Linked DNA regions of Homo sapiens. The protein of the gene in region 2 interacts with the protein of the main gene of each other region in a pairwise test. Each region holds a gene or a part of one and is shown on either strand. Other genes may lie near its edges.

What was found.
Region 1: the proteins of NTRK3 (region 2) and HTR2A interact in a two-hybrid assay, tested with the Homo sapiens proteins (one study listed by IntAct).
Region 3: the proteins of NTRK3 (region 2) and WDR13 interact in a two-hybrid assay, tested with the Homo sapiens proteins (one study listed by BioGRID).

Annotation. Positions count from the first base shown.
Region 1 is NC_000013.11:46,829,097-46,839,355, forward strand, and holds the end of HTR2A (5-hydroxytryptamine receptor 2A), read right to left. Parts: intron 6,544-10,259; coding exon 5,741-6,543; 3' UTR 2,450-5,740; downstream 1-2,449. UniProt on the Homo sapiens protein: G-protein coupled receptor for 5-hydroxytryptamine (serotonin).
Region 2 is NC_000015.10:88,251,999-88,262,645, forward strand, and holds the start of NTRK3 (NT-3 growth factor receptor isoform a precursor), read right to left. Parts: upstream 4,742-10,647; 5' UTR 4,646-4,741; intron 4,489-4,645; 5' UTR 4,286-4,488; exon of another isoform or gene 4,171-4,285; 5' UTR 4,156-4,170; coding exon 3,908-4,155; intron 1,481-3,907; exon of another isoform or gene 732-1,480; intron 617-731; exon of another isoform or gene 525-616; intron 1-524. UniProt on the Homo sapiens protein: Receptor tyrosine kinase involved in nervous system and probably heart development.
Region 3 is NC_000023.11:48,599,284-48,608,475, forward strand, and holds part of WDR13 (WD repeat-containing protein 13), read left to right. Parts: intron 1-69; coding exon 70-179; intron 180-303; coding exon 304-434; intron 435-1,035; coding exon 1,036-1,343; intron 1,344-2,500; coding exon 2,501-2,681; intron 2,682-2,781; coding exon 2,782-2,923; intron 2,924-4,988; coding exon 4,989-5,107; intron 5,108-5,564; coding exon 5,565-5,749; 3' UTR 5,750-9,192.

The DNA.
Region 1 (10,259 bases), on a different chromosome or scaffold from region 2:
GTTGATATTTGCCTCCTGGGCTCATATCTTAGAAACTTCTTAGATACTTAGCAATTTGATTTATCTCATCCCATATAAAAGATAAAGTTGTCATTTATTTGAAATCCATCTAGAGAATTTAAGAAAACATGAGGGTTCTGCATTCCAGATTATCCTTGGCACCTGAAGCAGTGCCTTGGTTCAACAAGGCCTTGTCTGGACTCTCTAGTGTTCAGATAAGCATAGACATAGAAGAGACTCCTTGCTGAGATAATTGACCCTAAGTCCCTTATTATATGCTTCAAGGAGGAAAAACTCAGATTCGTCCAAGGTCAGACAACAGCAGCAGGCTGGACCTCGGTTTCCTGTCTGTCTTCTGCTGTGACTGGGCCACATGAAAAAAGGTTCCAATTGGGTATGAAGACTTCCCATAAAACGCTGGCTCAGATGGACATACTGGTGTTAATATCAAAAAAGAAGGTCAGAGTTGGGCCGGGCATGGTGGCTCACGCCTGTAATCCCAGCACTTTGGGAGGCCGAGGCGAGGGGATCACAAGGTCAGGAGTTCAAGACCAGCCTGACCAACATGGTGAAACCCCACCTCTACTAAAAATACAAAAAATTAGCCAGGCGTGGTGGTGCGCACCTGTAATCCCTGCTACTAAGGAGGCTGAGGCAGGAGAATTGCTTGAACCCTGGGAGGCGGAGGTCACAGTGAGCTGAGATCACACCATTGCACTCCAGCCTGGGTGATACAGCAGGACTCCACCTCAAAAGAAAAAAAAAAAAAAAGAAAGAGTTAAGACTGGTGTGTAAACCATTAAGGAAAAAATTTTTAAAAATTTTGTTTTAGCAAGCCGCATGCCAAAATAATCAGAAATTCACAAAGAAGTCTTGTCTCATTGCATATTTGCTGGGACAAATGCATCATTAATGTTCTTAGTTTAGAATGAAATCTTCAAAGTCTTGAATGTTTCTTTCAAAATCATCATTATTATTGTGGATTAAATTCAATATTAAGTTATAAAACTTTATATAAGTTATGAAGTGTTTGAAGATACTTGTTTTTTTGTTGTTGTTGTTGGTCATTTCAGGGATACCAAGAAAACATTTCTTGTCCCCAAATTTTCTTCTCACTTGTCTCCTTGATGCCTAACATTTTTCCTTTGATTTCTGCCTTTTGGGTTTTCATCATGGTGGGCTGCTGAAGAGATGTCAATGATACACAATGGCATATCAGCTTCAGTTACTTAGTAGTAGTCTTCCAGAGAGTTGACACCCAAGGGAATGGCATATGGGATGGAAAGTTTTTATGTAAGTCATAAGAGAGAGCACCAAAGAAGGGAGATCTGCATTAAGGTGGGGACAAAGCAGAAGTAAATTTTTTGAAAAAGAGAAACACCAAGAGAGTAGCAGAAGCTGCTGAATTATAATATTGCCTATCCCACAGTTTTGGCTAGAATTTGCTCTGATGGCTAATAATTTACAGAGGCTTTGGAGTTGTTCCTTTTTACTAACACACTGATTACATTTACATGGTGTTTTACAAGTTATCAAGCACAGCCATAGGCATGATCTTATCTAAATTACTCTGTCAGTTAGCCAGGATGGGTACCAGCAGCTCCATTTTACAGACAGTGAAATCAAGGCCCAGAGTTGTTAAGAGACTGGTTCCAACTCACATAAGCAGTGAATGGAGAAGCCAACATGGGAACTCTCCTATTGTGGTTTTGACAGGTGATCTTTCCCCTGCACTGCATGAGGTTGGGAAAATATTTTATGCTTTGGAGTCAGATGACCCAGGCTTAAACTTGCCAATTTTCTTGCCAGCAGTGTGACTTTAAATATGTTACTAACTACTCTGAATCTCTGTTTCTTCATCTGTAAAAAAGAAAAATAATTCTACCTTGTCAGATTGTTGTGAAAATTCCATTTGGTGAAGCAAGGAAAGCAACCAGCTTAATGCTTGGCACACAGTAGGCACTCAATATACTTTCCCTGCAGTTAAAGATGAAATGATGAATGAGGGTAACTGTTAAATGACACCATGCCTCCTTGGTTTACTTTAATTCCTGAAATGATCTCCTGTGAAAGAGAGAGAGTGTGTGTGCATATGTTAATGCATCTGTGCGTGTGCACACCTGTGTGCATGTCCTGGTGTACACCACACGCACCTGTGCACATCTCTTAGGGCACTGAAGTTGTTCTCTATGTTCTTAGGCTTCGTGGAACCAGACATAGTGATCAAACATGGAGCATATTTCTACTGCAGATAACTAGAAACTGGATCATGGCGATAAAGCTAATCCAACTGGATGGATCCTAGCTCTGTGACATGGCTGACTTCCAGAAGCACAGGCTTTTTTGCTCTCGAATATCAGGATGATACCTGGAGTTCTGAGTCTGATGACCTGGAAGATTTGGGGTAATTCCGTTTAGTAGACACAGCTATGGACTCACACAAAATTCATTCATTTTTGAGTCTACTTTATTTACAGTTATTTATCCTTTCTTGAAAACTTTTAGCATCGCCTTGATTAAAATAAGTTCATAAAATAATCTTCACTGTATTTGTTACATATGGCACAGAATAATTTAGCACTTTATAAATATGTCTCATTGATGCACAAATGGGAGGAGCACCCTTTGCTGAAAGCAGTACAGTGACTTAGTTCAATTTGGCTACGGTAGCACTTTAAAAAATTACCATGAGATGGCGCTGTGGCCAAGTAAATGCAGTATGCTTTAAACAGTTTTCCCTAATTATGGCAGTTAATTGCTTTTTTTTGAATATAGAGGAATCTATCATTCAACTTAAAGTAGAGCAAGGTTTGTTACTCCGTTTTAATAGTATTCATTAAAAGTGAATCCTTTAATCACAGATCCATAAATCATTTGACAACTGTGTTTCACTTAGGTGTGAGTCTGTTTAAAAAGCCATAGTAGTCAGAAAATTGCCAGACTAAACAAAGGGCCCAAAGGTACCATTTTATTTAGGATCAAGAAACTATATATGTGGACCATTGTTTTCGCCATCCTCATAGACTTGTCTTAAAGTTCTTCCACAAAATTAGATTAATTTCCAGTTTATTTAAAGAGCTGATATTTTTGTTACACTTTAATCTGCTTTGCAGCAATGGAAGGTCATAGAAATATTAGAACATGAATTCACATTTAAATAAACATGATACAAACATGCACACATGTGTATATACTGAGTGTTTTCATTGACTTGCTTTTCGTCCATATAAATATATAAATATTGAATAAAGTGCATGAGAACATGTCTGTACATATATACAGCTACACATTTGCCTATACAGTATACACTTGAATAGATACTTATGGAAGAAAAAAACACATACACATTTGTAATATATAGGTAGTCAAAAGACATCTATCAGGCAACATTAATGTACATTCTGATCAAGATTGAGTATATGGGGGTAGAATCTGTAATCTTTTCCCTAATATATAATGAAATGTGCAGAGTTACAAGTGAAGGCAAAATACATTAGAGTGGAGACATTTTAACATTTATATTTTCATCAGTTAGTATGGTATATCATAAGGAGTAGTTCAGTTCAAATGCAGCCTTGGTACTAGCAGCATATTATACATTCTATCTTTGAAACAGTGAACCATCTTTCAACATATCTATGAGGACATAATGAGAATTTTATGCATTTCCAAATTACACAATGACACTTCCCACATTCTTTAGTTTTCAAATCTGTATTTTTTTCCCAAAGGTTTAGGGCAAACACTATTTCTCATTCAATAGAAATGCTTCAGCATTGTAATCATATATATAACATTGATTCTAATAACAACATGCAATTTAACCTTGAGTGTTATAATATCAAGGTGGATTAACTGTTGTTAATCTCTTTTTCTCTTTAGTAACCATTTCAATGAAATATTATAATATCTGCTTTTCTATTAGGGAGCCCAGTGTCAATGAGTAATACTGAAATGAGTGAGTTTTTGGAGAAATAGAAGAAAAATTTTGCTCAAAACTATGGTAGTTATAAACTGGCTTGAGATTGAGGTGCGTATTTCTAAATTAATTGCAATGTTAAGCCTCAAGTGATATTTTCCCCCTCCTTTATTTGTTTGGTGTTTATTGGTAACCAATCAGGAAAACTTATTTTTAAAACTACTCTCACAGTTGAAACAAACTTGTTTCTGAACCAGGTAAGAAGGAAATAAGTTGAAATGATTCTAAAAATAAGTCTGTATATATTTTTTGACTAAGACCATTTCAGTTTAGTCATTTTCTTTTTTTCTTTCTTTTTTTTTGTGATAGGGTCTCACTCTGTTGCCCAGGAGGAAATGGCAGTGGTGTGAACTTGGCTCACTGCAGCCTTGAGCTTCTGGGCTCAAGTGATCCTTGCGTCTCAGCCTCCCCTGTAGCTGGGACCACAGTTGTGTGCCACAAGGATCAGATAATTTTTTGATTTTTTTTGTAGAGACAGGGAGGTCTCACTTTGTTACCCAGGTTGGTCTCAAACTCTTGGCCTCAAGTGATCCTCCCATCTCAGCCTCCCAAAGTGCTAGGATTACATGCACGAGCCTCCGTGCCTGGCCGAGCCATTTCGTTTGAAGGCAAGGATTTTGTTTTAATTATTTTTATATTTCTCATATCTAGAAATTTGCTTCACACATAAATGTACACTCAATAGATGATTGTGGAACCAAGCAGAATGGTTTTAATAAATAGTATAAACCGATGGATCTGAAAGCATCAGTTTACCTGATGAGTGTCATAGGAAAGTCACCTGCTTTTTACAGAGATGTCCTAGGACTCTACCACTGTCAGTAGCCGGAAACCTGAGTTCATCCTCAATCCTGACACAGTTACATCAATATACATTTACTGCTCAAAAGAGTGCATGCATGATGCAGTCATTTCACAGCAAGTTACCAAATACCTCGATAGTGCTGTTTTAGAGAAGCAATTGCTAGAAAGGCATTTGGTAATGTTAAATCATCCTTTTGCTAGTTTACCTAGAGGAACAAATATTAAACAAGACCACACTGGAAATTCAGAGTAAAGCACAAGAAGTAGAAGAGAAAGCAGCAATAGTTATTGAATAACATTTGAAGTCTTTTTCACTTCTGAGAATTAACTTGAAATGCAGCAAATGCCAGCAACCTTGTGAATATTTCAAAATGGTATCTATGAAAAAGCAGGAATGAAAAATGTTGTCAAGTATTTCATTTAATTATCTTAGCAATACAGATTTTATAACACTGACCTTAGTGGCTTTTTTTTTCTCCTTTCAAAATATATACCATAGTAAGTTTTAAAGATAATTTTTAAGAGGCCATTATATTCAATAAAATTTTCACTATTTATAGCTATTTTTATTTACAGCAATAGGTAACCAACTCAATCCCATGTCATCAATGAACAGCATAGCAGCAAGGTTTCCACTTGAAAATAGAAGTTAATTTAGATTTACTTAGGGCTTCATAATTATACAATAAAAGTGAATCATTTTAAAGACATATCATTTACAATGTTATAAATAAGTATCAGAAAGCTCACAGCTGAAATGCTGTCAGAACATTTTCCAAGCACACATTTTGTAGCATTGAACCCCGCTTTTCATTGACAGAATAAAATGAGGCATACAGATATGATCGTTGGTTCCACTAGACTTGTCTAATTTTTTCCAATCTCATATTTTTTTTTTTCCAGATAGGTGAAAACTTGCTCAGTGTGCCTTCCACAGTTGCCACGGCAACTAGCCTATCACACACAGCTCACCTTTTCATTCACTCCGTCGCTATTGTCTTTAGAAGCCTCTTCAGAATGCTGCTTTCCTAGAGCAACCATTGAGCAGTCATTATCTGTTGTCTTGGCATCTTGCTTTGAATTCTTTTTTTGTCCCATTTGAAGTTGGCTAGACTTGTAGGCCAAAGCCGGTATTGTGTTCACTAAAATTAACTGCAATGGTTTTTTGTTTTCCTTGTACTGACACTGAATATACCGTGAAAAGGCTGACCTATAGGTCTTGTTGAACAGTGTGTAGACTAGTGGGTTGACTGCTGAAGAGAGATAACCGATCCAAACAAACACATTGAGCAGGGCCCCAATGACATCCTCATTGCAGGACTCTTTGCAGATGACGGCCATGATGTTTGTGATGAAGAAAGGGCACCACATCACCACAAACAGGAAGAAGACGATGCCCAGCACCTTGCATGCCTTTTGCTCATTGCTGATGGACTGCATAGTCCTCCTGCCTGTGTAGGACCCTGGCTCCCTATGGATCGACCGCTGGAAGAGCTTTTCTGAAGACAAAGAACTCTGAGGGAGGAAGCTGAAAGAAGCTAATTTGGCCCGTGTGCCAAGATCACTTACACACAAAGTAGCTTCTTTCTGGAGTGACTTGATAGTTAGAAAGTAGGTGATCACCATGATGGTTAAGGGAATGAAAAATGACACAAAAGAGCCGATCAGGACAAAGTTATCATCGGCGAGTAAGCAACTCCCCTCCTTAAAGACCTTCGAATCGTCCTGTAGCCCAAAGACTGGTATTGGCATGGATATACCTGGAGTTGAACAGAAAATGAAACATGATTATTAAGGAATTAAGTATATGAAGGCAAGAGCATCATCACATAATATTGGCTATTGAAAAGATTTTATATCATCGTTTAAAAGCTTAACATACTTTGAGAATTTAAAATTCCTTTGGACTTACATATGTGTTTTGTAAGTATATATTATGTAGTTACTTGTATGTTATATTGCCCTATATAGCTAACCCTTATAAAGAAGTATAATAAATCTAGCTTTATTTTTTATGCCACATTTTTCTGATTATAATATTATACTTATTAATTGAAGAAACACACAGAGAGGCAAATAAACTAAAAATTGTCCAATAACGTCACCATCTAGAGATAGCCACAATTAACAACTGATGCTGTTCATTTTATTTATTTATATATTTATTTATTTTTGTCTATGAAAATCTAGAATATAGATTTGTTTCTTTTTTTGATGCTGTTCATTTTAGATACATTCACACACTTACCATGTGCACACATTTTAAAACAGAATTGAGGTTCTTTTTCACAAATAGTTCTGTATCTTTTTTAAAAAATCTAATAATATGTCACAAGCATGGCTTATATATAAAAATAACTATAAAATTTTAAATATAGTTTATTTTCTCTCTAGAAAATTTGGGAGGTACAAAAATGTAACAATGAATAAAGAAAAATAATATGTATTCTCACCAGTCAGGGGCAACCATAATTTACATTTGCATCATTTCTTCTTCCACTTACATGTACATATAAAAGCAAATGTGTATATGCAGTACTTTACATGCAGTACTTTGTACCTTATATGTTTTAGATCTTCCTATTCCATTTAACATTATAAATCATGATAATTGCACATAAAATATTTTTGAGAAATACAATTTTCTAATATTAATTTAAAATAACCAATTTTAATTCTTTTTAAAAAAGCTTTTATTATGGGACATTTTTAACATACACACAACTAACAAACCAAAAACCAAACCCAGTACAGTGAACTCGTCACCCAGCTTCAAAGATTATCAGCTCAAGCCCAATCTTGTTTCATCCATATGTCCTCTGGCTGCCATCCCTCCCATGTTATTATGAAGCAAATCCTAGACATCATGTCATTCAATCTGAAAATATTTATTACGTAGATCTAAAAGCCATGCACTCTTAGACAAACCTAATATTTTCACAATACCATTCTCACTCCTAAATAGAAGTTTAATATTTCCTTAATATTAAATGTAGAGTTAGTGTTCAAATTTCCAATTGTCCCATAAAGGTTGTTCTATGTTTTTAGTAGTAGAGCATTCATAAGGATGGATTGCAAAAAACAAGACAGCCATAGACTTTTTATTGACAAATATAAAAAGTAGGTATAGGATGAGATAATACAGGGGAACATGGGCCTATATGGTTCATTGCTCCATCACCCAGATTTGGGGGATCTGTAAGGCTCCCTCAGGTACAGGGATTAGGCAGAGGAGGAAGCAGAAGTGAATAAAGGCAACCCCTGGCCTCTAATCATGCTATGTGCCCCACTTGATGATAGGACCTTTTTAAAGGAAGATTCAACTGGCCATGTTGTGCAGTTTCACCACCCAGCCCCCACCATGGACAACCTCTCTGCTCCTGGGGAAATAGGTGTATCTTTCTCTACTGGCCTGGGATGGTTGGTCCAAGGCAATCATGAGATGGCTTATTCTCTCTGCCATAAAGGTAGAATCAGGATGATAAAAAAGAGAGGAAACATGAATCAAGTACTCTGTATAACTTAGTTTAAGATTGTTTCTTTCATGAAATGGTAGATATTGCAGGGACAGCCTGGGAGAAAAAGTCAGAAAAATAGTTCCCTTCTAACTCCTGCCCATATTATCAGCACACTCAGAATTGTAGAACAAAGAGTGTTGTGGTTACTGCTTCTGACCGTCTTTAGAGTCTAATACATGGTCTCACACCAGCCAAGAACACCGGTTTATTCCAGAATTGGGGGCCACTGCCTCACTCTTGCCATCCATCTGGAAAAAGGTTTTTGGAGAATCTCTAATCTAACTTCTGCATACTCAGAACAGAGTTCCGCTTCATCCAAGCACAGGCATGACTGTCCTAACCTCATGTCACCTCACATTGGCCATCGTGGCCAGGAAAGAACGCTGAGTTGATGTAATATTCAACACAAATCTTTCTTAGTGACATTTGCCATTATCTTCAAAGACTTAATTAACAATATTTGTCACTTGCCTATGCAAGCCCATCCAGGATTCTTGGAAGGTGGAGATAAATGACATCAGAGCTGTTCATAAGGACACTTATTGTGGCTAATGACTCTTCATTTCCTCCATCCCTCTCTGTTCCTGGCCCATTGTTTGCAACATTCAAGAAGAGATTGATGAGCTGTGCCTCCAAGGAGAACATCCTCTGAGACCCTGGATATTGACCAGTTTTGCTTATCCTTCGGAAAACTCTTGATTGTAAAAGTAAGGGCATGATTTCTAAGAAGAGTGTTTTTCTCCCAGTGTTTGAATCTAGATCTGTGAAAGATATTTCCTGTACTCATGTACAAGGTCTTCTTAGACAGCACAGTTGCTCATTGATTAGAAAGGATGCTTTGTTCAACCATTTGAGACATCCCTGGATTTGAGTCTTGGCTGTGGCTCTGGGCTCCTGAATTGGTTACTTCATTCCTATAGTCCCCACTTCTTCATCTATCGTGGGAGGCTGGCACCAACATACCTTCATGCATTTGGTGAGGATAAAATGGATCAAATTTGCAGAGCACCTAGCACAGCACCCAGTCCATAGTGATGTTCTACCAGTGGTCAATAAACATGAGAGTAGCTTTCTCTGCAGAACTATTTATATTAAATATATCAACATTATTTTATTCTAATCCATTTTGCTTAGTTTGTATACACTAGATTTTATATAGCAGATCTTTTTAAACCAAAAGAGACTAAAAAGACTTTTGGCTATTGGCCGTAGAGTTAACACTGATGTAATTTTAGCTTCTGCCAGGGTGACGCCGGGTCTTAATCAATTTTAATTTTGTGCAGCTAGAACTGTTGATTACTTTCCTAATGTGATGAATTACAGCATTACTATTAGTCATGATACACAGAAACAAGATATCAACCGTCCAAAAAAGGTGTGTGATTTTGTTATTAAACTCTTGAGTGTTCTTTTTCTAATTAATACAAAGGAAGTAACTACCTTGAGAGCCTTTTGCCCTATTTGCTTATAACCTAGTAATGTACATAAGTGGCAATTCTCAATTAACCAGAATGTGGGCTTACCTAAAATGCCAAATTCTTTAATTATTTGGAATAGTGTCTTTGGTTGGACACACACATACACACACACACACACACACACACACACACACCCTTACAGAATAGCCCAGTTTCTGAGAGGGGTGATGGAGTCATCTGCACTGAAATAGAGAATCCCTCTCTTAAATGCCCGGGATAAAAAGCCACTCTACAAGAGGATGTGGTAAGAGGTTACACGCAGAGCTGTTCTGTCTGGAAGGGGGATATTAATTTGGAAGTGGAGAATCAAGCTGATCAGTTATTTAAATGGCCTATTCATCTTTACATATAACAAAAACATCCTGAATACTATCGTATACCATTCTTTTTCCATGCCTCACTCATAGTATCTGGTCAGCAAGGGTTGTAGAAAGAATAACCAGAAAGTTAAAGTAATACTCTATAAAGAGGAGAGGAAAT
Region 2 (10,647 bases):
GGGGTCTTGGCTCTGGAGCCACCAATAGCCTTTCCTTGGTGGAAAACCCCAGGGCCTCAGGAGACCAAGGTCTCCAGGTTTGATCCTGGAAGTACCTTTCTCTGGGGCTGTAACTACTCCTGCTTCCAAATCTCATGTCAACAGCCCCTCACATTTCTGCCCACCTCTCTCAGACCTAGTCCTAATCCTGGGGTTCTGAGCACCAAACTGTGCCTACCGAGAGTGAGCCCCATGATGCCTTTGGGGCCTGGCTCATACCCTGCTGGGTCATTGTCAAGGCTGGGTCTCCCCTTGATCCTTAGAAAGAATGAGACTCAGGAGCCAACATGACGGCCAAAGCCCCGAATGATCCTTCAGCCAGCCAGAAGAGGGCCTTCAGGGAGGGCCATGGAAATGAAGGGACCAGAGAGCTGCCAAATGCCAGGGACCCTGTGGCGGCTCAGAGTGAGACCCAGCTGGCGACTCAGAGTCCCAGCTAAGAGCCCGTGGTCTTTGCAAGCCGAGGTAGCCAGCCCCAAGCATACCTGGTCCAGCCATGCCATCCTCTCCCACTTCATCTTCTTTCTAACAGCTAAAGACCATACCACTCCAACCCAGCCCCAGGTAGGCCTGGCCTAGCAAAGCGGCCCAGACAGTCCACCATGGCCACCACCCTCCTGCCTTTGTGACGTCACAGCCTGGTTGGGTGTGGCTGCGCATGGACCCTTCCAGGCTCCATGAGGTTCCTGTGTATCAACAGCTGCAAAGGCAAAGGGATTGGCCTCCTGGGCAGAAAGGGGCCAAAAGGGAGGGCCCTTTGGAGGAGCGTGGCTCTGGTGAGGGGTGGAGGTGAGACCCACACTTATGCTCTGATGCCTTGCAACTGATTTCCTCCAGATACAAACAGGGCAGCTGAATGGGGAGATGGCCTCCCCCATCAGAGGCAGTTCCCAGCCAGCTTCCTTGGATGGCCACACAGGAATCACTCCACACACCATCCCTGAGAAGCAGAACCACAGGGAAACCTCTTGTCCCTCTGGAAACTCAGTTACAATCAGTTCAGCACTTGAAGGAAGGATCTCGAAACATTACAGCCCGAAGAACAAGAGGGTGAAACTGTGGAGGCCTCAGCATCTTCTACCCAGAGTGTGCCCAAGCTATACCCTGGGGCAGCCACCAGCATCAAGAGCTTCAGGCCAGTAGGGAGCTAGGGGACCTCTTGGTCCCATTTCCTTGATAACATCAGAAATCTGAAGAACAACTCTCCAGCAAGGCACGGGCTTCAACTGAAGCCCTCTTCCCAAGTCATACTAAAACAAGAACTGACCCCAGCTGCGGGTGCTTCTCTCTGCCCGCACATCCCTCTTCCAGCCTGCTCCATATGCAGCCCCACACAGTGGGGGTTCCTGTTGGGATTGTGTGTCTGGGGCAAGTGACCTTACCACCCCAAGCCTCCATTTCCTCAGAAGTCAAACAGGGATGGGGATGCTGACTTTCCGGGGTAAGCGTGACTCTCCGCCCTCTCTCCAGCCCCCTGGCTCTGGAGTGGAAATCTGGGCTCTTCTCGAGCTCAGTCAATACCAGCCATAGATATAACAGGGCACTGGGGAAAAGATGGGGCAAGGAGAGGTCATTTGACCCATGACCTCTGACCCTCCCCCACCTGCCACTGGCACAGCTCCTGTGGGAATCCATTTCCCTTGTTCTTTGGTGTTGGGTGGATTTAGAGAAAGGAGTCCTGATGGCCTCTCAGAATCCAAGTCCTGAAACAAGAATGGGGACACACACAGAGGGGCTCCAGATCCACTCCCTGCTCACTATCCTCCCAGACGCCCTCCTGAGGCCCTCCAGTACCAAAGAGGGCAAGAGGCCACCCCAGTCCCCTCCCATCACAGACCTTTCTGGCAGCCTAGAAAGGCTAACCCAACTCTGCCCTATGAAACTGCTTCCCTGAGCATCATTTTCAGAGGAGCAACACCTCTGTGTGGCTATAAAGAGCCTACGTGATTGTGACCATCCCTGCCTCCCACTGGCTTTCTACAGACAGACACATCCTTGGAGCAGCACACTGGATGCAGCTCACCCATTCCCAGAGACCCAGGCTGGGTACCAGGGGCCCCTTCTTCCAACCCTTGGCCCACCCCTGGCAATCTCTAGGTCAGGCTTCTGAGCACCAAGACTGGCTGCTCAGCTCCCACCTTCACCAGCACCCTACTACCCACATCCACCCCCTACACACATACACATACAGCCCCAGCAATGCACTTCCAAGTCTGAGTTTCCCTAACAGTCTCACTCTGAACCCTTCTCCCTGCATCCTTGGGAATGCTGGAAGCCTGTGGCCTGCAGTGGGGGAGAGGCACAGTTGGGTCTGTCCTGTTCCTCCTGCCCTCCCTGCTGACCCCCGCCCCTTGGCTGTTTATCTTGTCATCTCTGGCCGGGTTGAAGAGGGTAAGGGGGTGAACAGCAGAGCTGAGATATGGGTCAAGCTTGTCTCCTGGGCCAGGAGTCAGAGACATCTCCTGGGCTATCCATTTCCCTCAAACTGTCAGCTGCGAGAGCGCAAGCAGAAGCTCCATTAAGCCGAGAGGGCTGGTGGGCTTTCCAAAGAGCAGGACTGCAATTCCTCCAGGCTTTGCAGCCCCATGGCCCTGGGCTGAAGCAAGGGGAGGTGCTCCCAGAGCAGCACCAAAGGCAGGTCCGGCCCCCTTAAGTCCGTCGAAGGGGTAAAGAGCCACCCAAAATGCCTTCCTCCAGACCTTGGCCAGGACCTCAGCACAAACCCTTCTCAGCTGCCTACCCATTGCTGAGGGTCCCCAAGGGCTGGAAGCCTTGGGGGAAAAGAGGTGAGAATTATCCTCTGAGCAATTCCAGTATGGTCCACACCCTTCTCCAGGGTGGTAGGTTAGGAAGGGGTCACCTGGCCGAGGTCAACGAAAGAAAAGAGGAGCAGACTCTCCAGTCCCCAGCCCTCGATCTGTCCTCTCCTTTGCGTCTGCTGCCATCCCCACCAAAGAAAAATAGCAAGGAGAAAAGAGCAGGCCACCACTGGTCTCCCTCGGAGGGGGCAGAACCAAGCAAAAGCCAGCCAGAGTTGAATGTTCCAAATGAACCGATCCGCACGATCACACAAGAAACCCCTCTCCTCAAAACACACGCCCTCTCCTCTCCCTGCGCCATCCTGACTCGGAATAGTTCCGAGCAGTTATCAAAGCCCAAACTGGGAAGGGATCTGTAGGCGCCCAGATGCAGATGAGGGTGGCAAAGGGGTGTCTCGGAAATGCCCAAAATGGGGCTGGAGAGGGCGGGCTGCAGGAGGGGAAGGGAAGAGGTAGGCGTCCATGACGGCCTCCACACGTCCAAAGTCTCCCCGCGAGCAGCCAGCTCGCAACTTGTTTACTTGTCAGCATGTTTTGCTGTTTCCAAATGGAAATAGTTAAACACCTCGGCTGGATCGCGAGCAGTCCCTATCTGTCACCTTCCCTGCCGGCTAAGCGCTGCCGCCGCTGCCACCGCCGCTGCCGCCTCTGCCAAAGAATCGAACCTCGTCTACTTTATTCCACTTGAGCGTGGCCAAACTGTTGCTATTTAGTGGGGAGCAAAAAAAAACAATTTGCACCATCGAAACGAGCCAGCAACTGGTTGGGAGGCGGGCGGTAGCTGGGCCCCGCGTGCCCTCGGCGGCCGGGGTCCTCTCCGGGGAGAGGCACACACACGCATAGCCGGATCGCGCCTCGCCAGGGCCGGAGTCACCTGGAATGCGCAGCCGGAGAGCATCTCCCGAGCCAGAGCGAGCCTGACGCGCGCCCAGCGGGCGGCGGGCAGCGGCGAGCTGGGGCGGGCGGAGGGCCGGCTCCCGGCCGCGGGTGGGCAGGAGGGAGACGCAGAGCGCGGGGGAGGCAGGCTGGGGAGCGGCCGCCTGACTTACATGGAAGTGATATTCCTTGAGATGTCCGTGATGTTGATACTGGCGTTCCCATTGCTGTTCCCTGAATCCTGCCCTTCCAGGAGGGGGAAGAGGTTCCCATCGTCCGGCCGCCGGCAATTGATCTCAGTCTTGCTGCAGACACAATTTGCAGGGCAAGCCAGCACGGAGCCCACATAGTCCAGCCAGACGCTTCCCAGCAAGAAAATCCGCCAGAAACTACACTTGGCTGGGCAAAGAGAGACATCCATCTCCGATCGCTGCTTCTAAAAAAGAGGAGGAGGAGAGGAGAGGGGGGTGGGGTGGGGGGAGTGGGGAGAGCAGGGGGGGAAGGAAACAAAGACGGCGAGGGAGGGGGGAAGGGGGAGGGGGGGCCTCTGCCTTTGAAACGCCGAGCGATCAGATGCAAAATCCTTCAGCGTCTGAAACCATCGCGGACGCCGCCGCCGCCGCCGCCGCCGCCGGGTGGGAGCCGCGAGGAGCGCCTAGTGGCGCGGTCTGCCGGGCATGGTGGCCGGCTCGGCGATCGCTGACTCGCCGGGTCCGGGGGCTCTGGAAGCGAGGCGCGCTCTCCGACTCCGAGACTTTGCAGGGTTGCAACAGACGGTGGGGAGGCAAAAAAAAAAAAGGAAAAGGAAAAAATGGTGCTAAAGTCACCAAGTCCCACCTACTGGGCAGAATTAAAACGGACACACCACGCACCTGCAAAACACACACACTCACTCTCACACATACACACACCCGGAGCCCGAGGAAAGGAAGAGAAGGAAGATGCAGTAGGAGCTGCAGCAGCCGCCGCGAATGGCTCGCCGCGCGGCTGCAGAAATGTACAAGTGCTCCGAGCCTTACGAAACGCACGGGTTATCGGAGCGTCTTCCTCGGCTCCCTCCCTCCCTTCCTCCCTCCCTCCTCCCCTCCCTCGTCGCGGCCTCCTCCCCCCGCCCCCCGCCCGGGCTGGGAGCGGCAGGAGAGCGGAATCTCCCCCTCCCTCCCCTCCCCACACCCGTCTCTCTCCCCGCCTGTCCTCTCCCTCCTCCCCACCCACCCACCCACCCACTCGCCGGCTCGCGGCTGTAGCCGGCACCGCCACCCGCAGCCTCGCGGCAGCCCGCCCGCTCCACGCCTCGCAGCGCGGCGCCCGCTAGCCGCAGCCCGGGGGAAACCGAGACCGAAGGGAAAAAGTTGCATTTGAGATTGCGAGGGTCGGGGCTGGGGAGGGAGAGTTGGCGAGCTGGCTGCACGACACGGAAAGGCGCTCTCCTTTCCACTTTTTGGCCCTCGCGCTACCCGGTTTTGCTGCAATCCGGACCGCGGTAGGAAGTGAAATGAACGTGGCGGAGGTGATTGGGGAGTGCTCCCAAGCCTTGGGTGGGGGGCGCTCCCAAGCCTGGGTGGGTGGGGGGCGCAGGCTCACGGACGGCGACGGGGGGTGCCGGAGCGCACAGACACCCCAGAGAAGCACCCAGAGCCGGGGACCGGGACCGCAGACGCGCAGTCCTTGGTCTGAATGACACTCATTTCCGTAATCTAGAGTCTGGGGCTCTGGTCTTGGCTGGGAGGGGACTGCGGGACATGGCACGCTAGGTGCCCCCCGTGCCCGCTGCGCTTTCTTGGAGGTGGGTTTTGCATTCGGCCTTGAGCAGGCATGGATCGGGGAAGGAAGAAACAGGGGTCGAAAGGGCTGCGCTGGAGAGCCGAGGTGGCCCCGGGCGAGCTGTGCGTGCAAGAGAAATGGCCGGGGGAAATTGAGATGCAAGGGGCATATTTTGGCAAGCGCCACGCCAGCACCGTCAGAGGCCGGCTTCTCGGGCTCAGCTCTCGGGTGAGCTGAGCTGGCTGCCGGGTGAGGGGGCGGGCGGGCTGCTTTCTCCGGATTCGGGGGCGCAGAACCTCCTCCTTCCCTCCCACACAAGCACCCCTTCCTGGTAGGGACGCAAAGCAGGTGCAGCTTTCGACGAGAGCTCAGATCTCATCCGGGAAAGAAGTGTGTGTGGGGGGGGCCCCGCTTTTGCGCTGGTAGGGATTTTTTTCTTAATAAAACATAAAGATGCCAAGTGTGAGCTGTTTGCTGAAAAAAAAAAAAACGAGCATTCGCTGTGGGAAAGGAGAAGAAAGGGTTAGGGGAGTCCGAGCAGGCAGACACACTACAGCATTCACACGCAGAAGAAAGCAGGGTTCTCCTTCCCGAGCTTGGAGGAGGGCAGGCGAGGAAGCAAAATACATTGAATTCAATTCAACTGCATCCAGTATCTGAAAGGAGTCTCCCCCGCCCCCCTGTGGATTCCGATGCAGGTCATGCAACTTGCAGGCAAGATGGGGGAAGGGGTATGCCGGTGTCACCGCCTGCCCCAGGCGCAACCACAAACAGGCCGGTCGCCTTCGGGTGGCACTGTCGCTTGGAGTAAAAACTTGGACGAAAAAAATGGAAGAAAAGAACATGCCTATACAAGGCAGTTTTCCCGACTTCCCGTCACGTTCCACCTTCCCTTGGCCCCAGGGAGATTTTTACCCCCGTCGCCATTATGGCCTTGTCTCCAGACTGGCATTTTGCCCTCCCACCAGCAGGCGGGGACAGAGTGTGAAGACCTCCTTGGACTCTCAAACCACTTGCTACTGGCCCTAGGCCAATCCTGGCTGTCCTTAGGCCACTGGGAATTTCCCTGTCACTTCAAGTGCCATTCTGGGATTGGCTTTAGAATATCTGAGAGTCAGGAAACTGAGGTGTAGTCAGATCCTAACACTTGGCCTCTCTTGGGAGGTGGCAGGTGGCAGCAGAGAAACACAGCCTCTCTCAGACCACTCCTGGGCAGGGAACGCCAAGTGGATTCAGCCCAGCATCAGTGCTCCAGCCTGGAACTGAAATGGTTGTGTCCAAAAGATGCCCAGCCCACTTTTTTGAGAGAGAGAGAGAGAGAGAAAGAAAGAGAGAGAGAGAGGATTTTTAACATGTCAAGCAGAGAAGAAGAGACATCCATAAGTTAGAACAACAAAAACAACAACAACAAAAAACCTTTAAAAACCCCTCTGGATTTGGTAAAAATGCAGATTGTGGAGCAAGGGGCCCTGATGGGCAAGAAGTCTTTCATCCTGACAGTAAAATGGGATTAAGATGGGGTGCTACGTTTATGCTCACACTCTGGGCCTGAGCAGGAAGCGACAGCTGAAAAAGAGGGAAGCCCTTTCAAAAGCAGGTGACGCATGGACACATAGAGGGGACAATGCACATGAGGGTCTACCAGAGGGTAGAAGGTGGGAGGAGGGAGAGGATCAGGAAAAATAACTCATGGATACCAGGCTTAATACCTGGGTGATGAAATAATCTGTACGACAAACCCCATGACACATGTCTACCTGTATAACAAAGCTGCACATCCTACACACGTACCCCTGAACTTAAAGGTTTAAAAAAAAAAAGCAGGTGATAGACTAGAGTGGGGAAGAGCAGAATTTCATTTCTAACCACAGGGAAATGACAAGCTTTCTGGGACTCCGCTTTCCCATCTGTAAAATGACCACGTTAAGACCAGATCCTCAAAACCCAAAGTGTGGCCCTCTGTCCAGTAGCATCCATATCACCTGGAAGCTTGCAAGAAGTGCAGCATCTGAGGCCCCATCACAGACCTCCCAAACCAGAATGTCCATCAGAACAAGCTCCCAGGTGATTCATAAGCACATCGCAGCCCCATAGTCATCCCTCCCAGCTTGAAGATTCTCTGATTCTACATGGATCTGGGCCAAAGGGACTGTTGAGGGAGAAAAAAAAAAAAAAGGTGGGGAATGATGGGGATGGGTCCTCATAATGTTATTCAGTTACAGTGAAGTTAGGGTGAAATAAACTGGGTATCTCAGAGGCAGGGGCCTTGTCAGAAAAAGACATTTGAAGTTTCATTCTAAGCTTAAGAAGATGAGAATGACCTGCTCATGCACTGCTCACAGAAATCATAGTGCAGGGTCAATAATAGTGCACACTCAGAGTTTGCTAGTTCTTAACCTCTGCAGTAGGCCAAATTTAAATGTGGGAGCAGAAGAAAGTCTCCAGCGTAGACACCCTCCCCTCAGTAAGAGTCCAGAGCATTTACAGTGTCTCACCTCTTGATAAGAATGTCCTGGTTGAAAAGGAAAAATGCCTGTCGCTTCATGGAGTCCTGGAGATATCATGACCAAGCTCAGCATCCAGCCAACCAGGGGTCACCCCCCAACCTCCTCATCTCCTTTGCTACCAGCTGGAGTCTTAGAAAGGAGGAAACTCACCCGTGTGCCCCTTGCTGATCAATAAGAGGCAGGAATAGGCAAAGTTTTTTGTTTTGTTTTGTTTTTTGAACAGAAAGTAAAGCTTTAGAAACCCTTTACAGGCGAGCAGACACCTTCCAGTACCAAGGGTTTGGAGAAGACAGAAATGTTCCCAAGATTCGAATGCAATCTTTCACCAGACAGGTCAGAGTGGGGACCACTTGCTGGAGCACAGTGGCCCAACTCCCCTGACACCTAGAGAAATTGAACACGTGTCTTTCTTAAAAGGCATGTTCCAGGCGTGCAAGCACCTGAGATTAATATCAACTGTTTATGGGAGATTTCCAGCAGCCCACATTCCCCTCCACCTAGCAAGGGAGAAAGGGAGTGGAAACTCAGAGCAGAGCCCTGCCAGTCTATTGGTCACCTGTCTGCCTTTCTAACCCAGCCACATCCCTTTTTCCAAAGGACCCATACTCCTGAGTCAGTGGCCACATTACCGGGATGTAGGCCACACACCAGGCAGGTCCATGGATTCACCCACCATGCCCTGCTCCTATGGTGTCATTCTGAATCCAAGAGCTGTGCTTCACAACTTTCAAGTTTGAGCAGAAATAGGATCTACTTCTGCAAGTCTCAGCTGGTCAAGAAACTGTGATACTGGGAGGTGACTGGGGAGCACAGCGGGCTACAAAGGGAATACTAGGTCCTGAAGGACTTGCTGTTCTAAAAGAGCTATCTGGAGCTGGCAGATCTGGGCTTGGGCTAGAGGAGGAGTTCTGTTTCTTGGGTGGCCCAAGCATAAGTTACAAGGGAAAGAGACAGGTCTGGGCCTGGTTGGAGGCTGGGGATGTATAATGCTATCCAGAAGCTCTGGGTCCAAGGAAAGAATTTTGACCATACATGGAAGATGAAAGCCCACCCACAAAAGGGGACAGTCAAGCACCAAAGTGGTCCAGGAAAGCAGAAGAATTCAACCATGGAAGAGCCAGCTCAGGGCTCCCACTCAAGTCCCAATATCTTGGACAAACACCTGCCAGGAGGTTGGGACTACCTGCTGGTGGTGTCCTGCTTGAACACCTTCAGTGGCAGGAAGCTCATTACCAGCCACTCCAGAGCCTTCGACTCTGTTCTCAGACAGCTCCATTCCTTGGGTATCCTTGACTTTGACATAGCGAAGCCAGCACCCTAAAGCTGCCACCCTCGTGCTAGTGCTGCCACCTAGACCCTCAGGGAAAAGTCTCACCTCTTTTCTGCAAGCCACCCAGGAGGCTACTCACTGCCCCTCTCTTCTCTGAGCAAAGCCTCAGTTCCTTCCCTATACTCCAAAAGCACAGCTTTCTGATCTTTCCCCACTACAGCTATTGGAAATGCATTCGGTTTGTCAAAGTGATCGGTTTAAATAAAGCATGGCTCCAGATCACACCGGCTTGAGGTGCTCTGACCTTGGGGAGCCAGGCGGTAAGCAGCTGTAATGGGACTAAAATGGTGTCATGTAGGGTTTACTACCCGCTAGTATCGAACCCTAGCAATGTACTTAAGGCTCTCCGCCTCAGTTTCCCCTTCTGCAAAATAGGATCTAACTCACAAGGTTGTCATGAGATAACACAGTAAGGCACTTTGAATAGTGCCTGGTGCACATAAGCATGGTATGTCAACTTTATTATGCCACTTTTGAGGTTCCCAGAGGGCTTTACCACCCAGCAGGGAGGCCCCAGCAGCCTTTATCCACTAACAGCCAAACACAATGCCGCCATGAAGCTCTTCCCACACACATTGCAGCACCCCCTGGCAAGTTGGTGCAATGGGTCGGGTGCAGCCACCGCCCACAGATACTCTCTGGCTCTGGTCCTAGACCCCAAAGTGGTGTGCTGCCAGAGAGGGTTCAGTGAATCTCGGGTCCCTGGGGAAGAAAGTACAGAGCGCAGGCCCAGGTACATCTCCCCTGAGATGCAACTCCTCAGCCCCGGAGCCCCTCGCTGCTGGTTCTCATGCCTTTGAGTTGCTCCTTCTGGGCTTTGGTCCCTTCCATAGGAAGGTAGACCCTGCTGAGTCACCACCGGCTCTGAGCAGTTGAGTTGGGCTGGGAATTTAATGCCGCACGTCCTAGGTCCTGCAGAGGCAGTGACTCACAAGGCCTCCCTGGCCTCTGAGTGTCCTGGTGGGGGCCCTGCAGGAGCAGATGCTAGAGCCCTTCCTTAGACAGCAGGATCCAGGGCAGGCAGCTGACTTCCTGCCAGCAGGTGAGCACTGCAGGCAGGTTAGGGGAGCCAGGGAAGAGGGATTCCCACTCCATGAGCCAACTTCCCCCAAGGTATGAAATCAGGAGTCAAGAGTCAGGACTCACACTTTTAGGAAGCCAGAAACCTGCAGGTGGTTGGCAGAGGCTAGTGCAGCACCACTGACAGGGACTGAGGGGAATGGAGAGGCTGGAGAATTGCACCTCCACACCCACCCTCCATTATAGACATAGCCCTCACGTGCCTTCCTAGATGAGCTCTCTCGGAGTAACT
Region 3 (9,192 bases), on a different chromosome or scaffold from region 2:
GGGCTCCACACCTCAAAGGTTCTCGGGCTTTTTGCAAGATGCACCCACCCTGACCCTCTCCATTTGCAGGACTTTGAGGATGATCCTCGGGCCCTGGGGGCCCGTGGGCACCGTCGTTCTGTCAGCAGAGGCTCCTACCAGCTGCAGGCGCAGATGAACCGTGCCGTCTATGAGGACAGGTATGCACCAGAGGCAGCCAAGGCGGGGGGCGGGTTGCGAGGAGGAGAGGGGCCCTGGGGCAATGGCAGACTGAACACTCTCGCATCTACCTCCTGTCACCCCTCACTTCCTATTGGGGCCCAGGCCCCCTGGCAGCGTGGTGCCCACGTCAGCAGCAGAGGCAAGTCGGGCCATGGCCGGGGACACGTCACTGAGCGAGAACTATGCCTTTGCGGGCATGTATCATGTTTTTGACCAGCACGTGGATGAGGCAGGTGAGCCAGTGGGTAGCGGGTTCCATCACCAAGCGTTTGCCCAAACTGTGACAACCAACCAAGGCATCCTTTTCTGAATCCAAGGCCCCTGGCACACTCCAAAGGAGGAATGACCATCCATAAAGCCTTTTGTAGACTGAAAATCCCTCTGCAAAGTGGTCAGTGCTTCGTCTACTGGAAAGGGCCTCAGAAGCCTAAGAGAGAGCCCTTTGCAGCAGGCTGCCTGGGTTCCTGAGTCACTTGGAAGAGTTCAAAGCCTTTGCTGATGATAAATCCCCTTGCAGAGGGCAGAGTGGGCTACAGTGTCAAGGGTTTTGCAAATTGCCAAGACCTTGATTATAAAGTGTTCGCTAAGACAGGAACTTTTTCATGTTGCAGAAGACTTTTGCAATCTGCAAAGGAGCTGCTAAGACTTAGGGAGCTTTGGCAGAGGGTCTTCAGGGGTTACAGTTCCCTTTGTCAGCCAAGGAAAGCCCTTTGCTGAGGCCACTGTTCCTCATGCAGTGGGGCCCCAGCCCCAGGCACACACGTCAGAGCCTTTTAGAGAGAAAAGTGCCCAGTGAGTGTGCAGATTCCCACTAATGGCTTCTTGGCATTGCAGTCCCAAGGGTGCGCTTCGCCAATGATGACCGACACCGCCTGGCCTGCTGCTCACTCGACGGCAGCATCTCCCTGTGCCAGCTGGTGCCTGCCCCACCCACAGTGCTTCGCGTGCTACGGGGCCACACCCGTGGTGTCTCCGACTTCGCCTGGTCCCTCTCCAATGACATCCTCGTGTCCACCTCACTGGATGCCACCATGCGCATCTGGGCCTCTGAGGATGGTCGCTGCATCCGAGAGATCCCTGACCCCGATAGCGCTGAACTGCTCTGCTGCACCTTCCAGCCTGTCAACAACAACCTCACTGTGGTCAGGCTCCAGGACACCCACTCACCAAGGGCTGGTGGGCTGGGTCAGGAAGGCTATCTGAGGGAATCAGAGTATAAGGAGGGACAGCCAGGGGGGGCCTAGGACCCCCCCACCCCCCACCCAATCTCGTCAGAGCAGTCCTAGTGTGGTCAGACTTAAAAGGGAAGCAGATCAGAAGACGGGAGTGGGCCAGGCGCAGTGGCTCACGCCTGTAATCCCAGCACTTTGGGAGGCGGAGGCGGGCGGATCACGAGGTCAGGAGATTGAGACCATCCTGGCTAACACGGTGAAACCCCATCTCTACTAAAAATACAAAAAATTAGCCGGGCATGGTGGCGGGCGCCTATAGTCTCAGCTACTTGGGAGGCTGAGGCAGGAGAATGGTGTGAACCTGGGAGGTGGAGCTTGCAGTGAGCCGAGATGGCACCACTGGGCGACAGAGCGAGACTCCGCCCCCACCCCCCATAAAAAGGGGAATGCCGTTCTTGATCTGGGTTGGCCTTGCTGTGGTACACTCCAGGGAGCACGGGCCAGGGTCAGGGTTCTGGCTCTGGAGCCCCTTTGGTCCCATCAGCTACAGTCCTACAGTTTTCCAACTGCAGGGGCTACCTCTGAGGAGCAGGATGATGAGGCTGAGCCTCGTCTGGTCTGTCAGTGGCCCCACCGTGTCAGACTCCAGGGTAGATTGGTCAGAGAGCAGGGGAAGGACATTAGAAAGTCTGGTGTGGCCCGGGGTGTAGTGGGGTGAACTGCAGAGGAACAGACCAAGAGTGAGCTTGTGGGCCGGGATCCTCCCCGCATTAGCAGCAGCCCCACAAGTTCCAGAAAGGAGCAGCCAGGGAGCAGGGGAAAGCTGGGATCACAGGCCTAGGCAGGCCCTATGGTTCTCACACTGTAGGAGGACTGGCCAAGGGGCAGCATGATGGCTCTGAAGGCCCTTTAGTCCCGTAGGCAGGTGGCCTACTCTGGGCAGATTGCAAAAGGGGCTGGCTAGGGAGGTGGATTCATGCCTGGTCACCTTGTCTACCTGCCACAGCCCTATTGTGAATAGACTCTAATAGGGACCAGCCAGTCGCATCAACAGCAGCCCCACTGTGGTCAGACTCAAGGAGGGCCTGGCTGGAAGCAGGATGATGGTCTGTGCATTCTCCCCACAGGTGGGGAACGCCAAGCACAACGTGCATGTCATGAACATCTCCACAGGCAAGAAAGTGAAGGGGGGCTCCAGCAAGCTGACAGGCCGTGTCCTTGCTCTGTCCTTTGATGCCCCTGGCCGGCTGCTCTGGGCGGGTGATGACCGTGGCAGTGTCTTCTCTTTCCTCTTTGATATGGCCACAGGTAGGCAGACAGCAGGCCTGCATCTGGGTGCTCGCCCTCCAGCCCTCCCAGGGCACAGCCCTCACCCTCACCTTTGCCTTCCCTCCCTCTGCTGCTGCAGGGAAGCTGACCAAAGCCAAGCGTTTGGTGGTGCATGAGGGGAGCCCTGTGACCAGCATCTCAGCCCGGTCCTGGGTCAGCCGCGAGGCCCGGGATCCCTCACTGCTCATCAATGCTTGCCTCAACAAGTTGCTGCTCTACAGGTGGGTCCCCCATCAGGGCCTCCTGGAGACGGAGGACCTGCCTCCTCCAGCACACTGGGACAGTAGCTCATCTCCTCCATCAGGTTAATTTAATTGAGGGAGCAGTAGTAGCAGTAACAGTAATAGCAGTAGTGAGCGCGTTTACAGCCATCACTGTGGCCAGGCCCTGTTCGAAGCAGTTTCCACGTATCACCACATTCAATCCTTGCACCGACCTGTGAGGTAGGTGCTGTTATTATCTCCATTTTGCAGGTGAGCAAACTGAAGCATAAAATAGATTAGGGCTACTTAAAGCAGAGACCTGTTTTCCTTTCTTCCTTCCTTCCTTTTTTTTTTTTTTTTTTTGCGGGGAGTAGTGTGGGGGTTACTGTCCCCACTCACATCTGTCATGTTACCCAAATGCAGTTCTCAGCCTGGGCCACACATTGGAATGACCTGAAGAGCTTCAAAAACTCCTGTCTGGGCCCCTCTACAGGCCAGTAATTTCAGAAGCTTTGGGATGGGCCTGGGCATTGGTAGATTGAGAAATTCCCTAAGCAATGTCTGGCCAGTCCTGAAAACCACTGCCTAACAGGATGCTTTTTATTCTACCCCTTTATTTCTCTCCTCCTTTTTAAACAATTTCTGTATATATACTTAACAATTTTTTAATTTAAGCGTACCCTTAAGTTTGCCCATTTCCCACAGCCTCTCCTTTCTTCCTCCTGCCACCTCTGGCCTCCTCCTGCCACAGTAAAGCCCATTAATGATCCACATCTTTCCACATATCCTTCTCTTTCCACAAATCCTAGGCGTGTACATATATCCATGTATGTTTTTGTTTGTTTGTGAGACAGGGTTTTGCTGTTACCCAGATTGGAGTGCAGTGGCATGATCATGGCTCACTGCAACCTCCAACTCCTGGGCTCATGCGATTCTCCCACCTCAGCCTAAGTAGCTGAGATTACAGGCACACGCCACCATGCTCGGCCAACCTTTTTAATCTATTTTTTGTAGAGATGAGGTTTTGCTGTGTTACTCAGTCTGGTCTTAAACTCTTGGCCTCAAGTGATCCTTGTACCTTGGCCTCCCAAAGTGCTGGGATTACAGACGTGAGCCACCTTGCCTAGCTCCCACCACAGTTTTGAAAGAAAGACGTTTTAAAGAAATGGCCTTTTCCGGCCAGGCACAGTGGCGCACTCCTGTAATCTCAGCACTTTGGGAGGCCAAGGCGGGTGGATCACCTGAGGTCAGGAGTTCAAGACCAGCCTGGCCAACATGGTGAATCCCCGTCTCTACTAAAAATACAAAAATTAGCTGGGCATGGTGGCAGGCGCCTATAATCCCAGCTACTTGGGAGGCTGAGGCTGGAGAATTGCTTGAACTTGGGAGGCGGAGGTTGCAGCGAGGCGAGATCGTGCCATTGCACTCCAGCCTGGGTGACAGAGCCAGACTCCATCTCTTAAAAAAAGAAAGAAAAAAGAAATGGCCTTTCCTACATTTCGAGTTTCTCACCAGGCAATGCCTTGTGGAAACCCCCCCAGGTTACCTGTGGGGACAGTGTTTTATTCTCTCTAAGGGCTGTGCAGTTTTCCACAGTGTGGGCATACCATGGTGTGTTCATTTCCTCTCTTTGTGCTTATCTTAATACCAGGATCTTTTAGAGACCCTTACAAAGAAAAACTAGTGAATGAAACTGCAGAGGCTCCCATTTATATCAACAGAGACAGTTTCTGAACCATCAGTAACTCACACATCAGCCCCTACTTATAGTTTATGTAGTCATCTCAGAATTGGGTTTCATAAGCTGGGTGTGGTGTGTGCCTATAGGTAGTCCCGGCTACTCGGGAGACTGAGGCGGGAGGATCACTTGAGCCTAGGAGGTTGAGGCTGCAGTGAGCCGTGATCGCACCACTACACTCCAGCCTGGGTGACAGAGTGAGATCCTGTCTCAAAAACAAAAAAAAAAATATGGGTTTCATGAACCCTGTAAAGAACTTAGGCACAGGGGTGGGGACACAGGCCCACAACTTGTCTCCCTGCTAGGGCTGGGGCTGTGTTTTGACCCACTCTCTCATCCTCTCAGGGTGGTAGACAACGAGGGGACCCTGCAGCTGAAGAGAAGCTTCCCCATCGAGCAGAGCTCACATCCTGTGCGCAGCATCTTCTGTCCCCTCATGTCCTTCCGCCAGGGGGCCTGCGTGGGTGAGTCCTGTAGGGACAGGGGATCTGGGTGGCTGGGGAGGGGCAGGAACCAGGGCTGGTGCCAACCTGGCTCAGACATCACGACACCGATGCCCTGACTTCCTGGACCTCATGACCCCTCCTGCCCCAACAGCCTCACTGTGGAACTCACAGCTCCAAACAGCTCAGAGAACTCACAGTTTGCACTTGATCTCGGCCAAAAGGCCGAGAAGTGATGAAAACTCACACTTTGAACGCACTAACTCCCCAAACAGCCCAGAGACCTCGCATTCTGCACACAGTACCAAAACAGCCAGGTGACCTCCCATCTAGGGATGGGGCCCCCTCAAACCTCCCCAAGCCATGCTAGGACCTCACACCTCGGACATACACCCTTCAACACCTCAGACACCTCAGGGACTTCCCACCAGGGGCACCCCAGGCGCCTCCCGATGGCCTCTCCCTCTCACCCCGACAGTGACGGGCAGTGAGGACATGTGCGTGCACTTCTTTGATGTGGAGCGGGCGGCCAAGGCTGCTGTCAACAAGCTGCAGGGCCACAGTGCACCTGTGCTTGATGTCAGCTTCAACTGCGACGAGAGCCTACTGGCCTCCAGTGACGCCAGCGGCATGGTCATCGTCTGGAGGCGGGAGCAGAAGTAGGGTCCTGTCGGCCCTGCTGCTGTCCTCCATCCCACCCCTCTTACTCCAGCCTCGTGTTGTAAATAAAGTTTCGGTGGTCATGCTGAGGGCCGGCTCCCAGCTCTGCCGGGGACGGACAGGGCAGAGGGCAGCGGGCAGCTCCAGGAACACGGTGGAACGGGGTTCATTGACTCATTTGTGCATTCATGCATCGACGGATTCATTCATTCCACAAGCATTGATTGAATGTCTGCTGGGTTACAGGCCCTGCCTTAACTGTTTTACACACTTATGCATTCGATAGACATTAGTGAGCCCTGACCGTGTGCCAGGAACTGTTCTAGGCACTGGGGATACTGCTCTGACCTAAACTGATGGAAATGCCTGCCTTCATTGGGCTTGCATCATAGCGGAGACAGTAGATAAAAACATGGAACAGGCCAGCTAATGATGAGTGGTATGAAGAAAATAAAGCAAGGATGGGAGACAGAGCTGCAGAAGTTGGGGGAGTGGGCTCTTTATGGTGACAGCATCAGGGAAGATGATCCTGACAGGGTGACTTTTTTGTTTTTGAGACAGGGTCTCACTCTGTCACCCAGGTTGGAATGCAGTGGCATGACCATAGCTCACTGCAGCCTCAACCTCCAGGGCTCAAGTGATCCTCACTTAAGCCTCCCAAGTAGCTGGGACTACAGGTGTGTGCCACCACACTCGGGTAATTTTTGTATTTTTAGTAGAGACGGGGTCTCGCCATGTTGCTCAGGCTGGTCTTGAACTCCTGGGCTCAAGCGATCCACTCGCCTCAGCCTCCCAAAGTGCTGGGATTACAGGCATGAACCACCACGCCTGGCTCAGGGTGACATTTAAAGACCTGAATGAAGTGAGTGGGAGTCATAGTGTAGGGGGAGAACATTCCAGGCAGAGAGAAAGCCAGCCTAAAGGCACTGAGGCTGGAGCGCTCCAGAAGGATCATTGTGTATGCCAGAGTCTTGCTGGACCAGAGTGTGACAGTACATGAGGTCAGACAGGCCAGATGCTTCATGGGCCACAGTTAGGACTTTGGCTTTTTTTCTGAGTGGGGGTGACCAGAAGGTGTCAAGCAGAGGAGGAACATGATCTGACTTGGTCATAGAGGCTCCCTCTGGCTGCTGAAGGGGACAGATTGGGGGTGGGGGTAGAAGCAGGGGACCCAGCAGGAGACCCCTCTGAGCGCAGTGATGGGGACTTGCACCAGGGTAGTGACAGTGGAGGAGTTGGCGGGGGAATGTTGGGTCGGACCCCCAGGGGGTTCACTATGTTAGGCTGCAGGACTCTGCTGCCTCCTCAGGGGGCGATATTCCCAACCCTTCTGTGCATTGTGTTGTTTATTAAAAGCAGGGAGCAGAGGTGTTGAGTCCTGGAGCCCCAAGCTGGTGCAGGAGCAACGGGAAGTTAAGGCTGACCTGGGGCCTCCTGCTGTGTGGCGGAATCTCCATCCCTCAGACCACCCCTGTCTCCTCCCAGCCCCATCCAGGGTACAAATTCCAGCCCTGGAACAGCTCAGAGACCAAAAAGTGATGTTAAGTATTTGAGGGGAGCCCCAAGAGAGGAGAAAAAGCTTTGAGTATTGATGGGGGTAAATAACCAAAATCACTTATCAGTGGCCTGCGTCACCAGAAAATGTCAAAGTTACCTGAAGCAGCAAAGAGGCTCTTGCTCCGGCCCCTCCCTTCCTTCTCAGCTCCATTTGTTGCCACATATGCGTTGACTGGAACTGCGACTGACATCTTGGGACCTTAGGGTCAGTCCACAGCGTGGTAGAGACTCCAGCTTGGCCCAGCATTGCTGAGCTGCTGAACTCGCACCAACAGTCTTGTTGGAGGGAAATAATCTCCCGTTTGTTCAGTCCAGTTATTTGACAGTGTGGTTACTTGCACCCCAAGCATTTCTAACTGGCACTTCCATCTAATAGACCTCAGGGTACATGGTGGTGAGATAGGGACATCAGTGAGCTGGATTGTTCCCATGGTAAAGGTCATGTATGTGTGTGTGTGTCATGGTCCTCAATACCAGCCCCAAGCCCAGTGATTTGCTAGGAGGACTCCCAAGACTCAGTATGTGGTTGTATTCATGGCTACGATTGACTTATTACAACAAAAAGATATGGAGCAAAATCAGCAAAAAGAAATGGTGTGCAGGACCAACTCCCAGAGAGACCCAGGCACAAGTTTCCAGGGCTTCTCTCTCATTGGAGTCACACAAGATGTGCTCGGTTCACAGTAATGGGTTGTGACAATACATGCGAAATGTTGCTGACCAAGGAAGCTCAATTAGAGACTCAGCACCCAGAGGTTTTTTTTGTTGTTGTTGTTGTTTTGGTTTTTTTTTGGCGGGGGGGGGGGGGTCTTGCTCTGACGCCCAGGCTGGAATGCAGTGGCATGATCTTGGCTCACTGCAGCCTCCACCTCCTGGGTTCAAGCGATCCTCGGGCCTCAGCTTCCCGAATAGCTGGAACTACAGGCGCGCACCAGCAAGCTCGGCTAATTTTTGTATTTTTAGTAGGGATGGGGTTTCACCATGTTGGCCAGGCTGATCTTGAACTCCTGACCTCAAGTGATCCTCCCACCTCAGCCTCCCAAACTGCTGGGATTACAGGCGTGAGCACCTGGCTGGTATCAAGTTTTTATTGGGGCATGGTCACATAGGCACCCCCTGCCTGGCACCTACCCAAATCCCAGGCTCCCAAAAGGAAAGCAGGGGCTCAGCATAAACCACCTTTTTTTTTTTTTTTTTAATTGAGACGGAGTCTCGCTTTGTCGCCAGGCTGGAGTGCAGTGGCGTGATCTCGGCTTACTGTAACCTCCGCCTCCTGGGTTCAAGCAATTCTCCTGCCTCAGCTTCCTGAATAGCTGGGACTACAGGCGCCTGCCACCACCACGCCCAGCTAATTTTTGTATTTTTAGTAGAGACGGGGTTTCACCATATTGGCCAGGCTGGTCTCCATCTCTTGACCTTGTGATCCGCCTGCCTCGACCTCCCAAAGTGCTGGGATTACAGGCATGAGCCACCGCTCCTGGCCCACTTTTTTATACAAACAGCTTAGGTAGAGTAAGCCATTCTTTTTTTTCTTTCTTTCTTTTTTTTTTTTTTTGAGACAGGGTCTCACTTTGTTGCCCAGGCTGGAGTGCAGTGGCTCAAACATGGTTCGCTGCAGCCTCAACCTCCCAGGCTCAAGCGGTCCTGCTGCCTCATCCTCCAAAGTAGCTGGGACCACAGACATGCACCACCATGACCCCAGCTGATTTTTGCAGAGATGGGTTTTGCCATGTTGCCCAGGCTGGCCTTGAACTCCTGGGCTCAAGTGATCCTCTCACCTTGGCCTACCAAAGTGCTGGCGTTACAGGTGTGAGCCACCACACCCGGCCCGAGTGAGCCATTCTTATCTCTTAGGGAATGGTGGGAACCCTCCTGGAGTCTATGTTCTT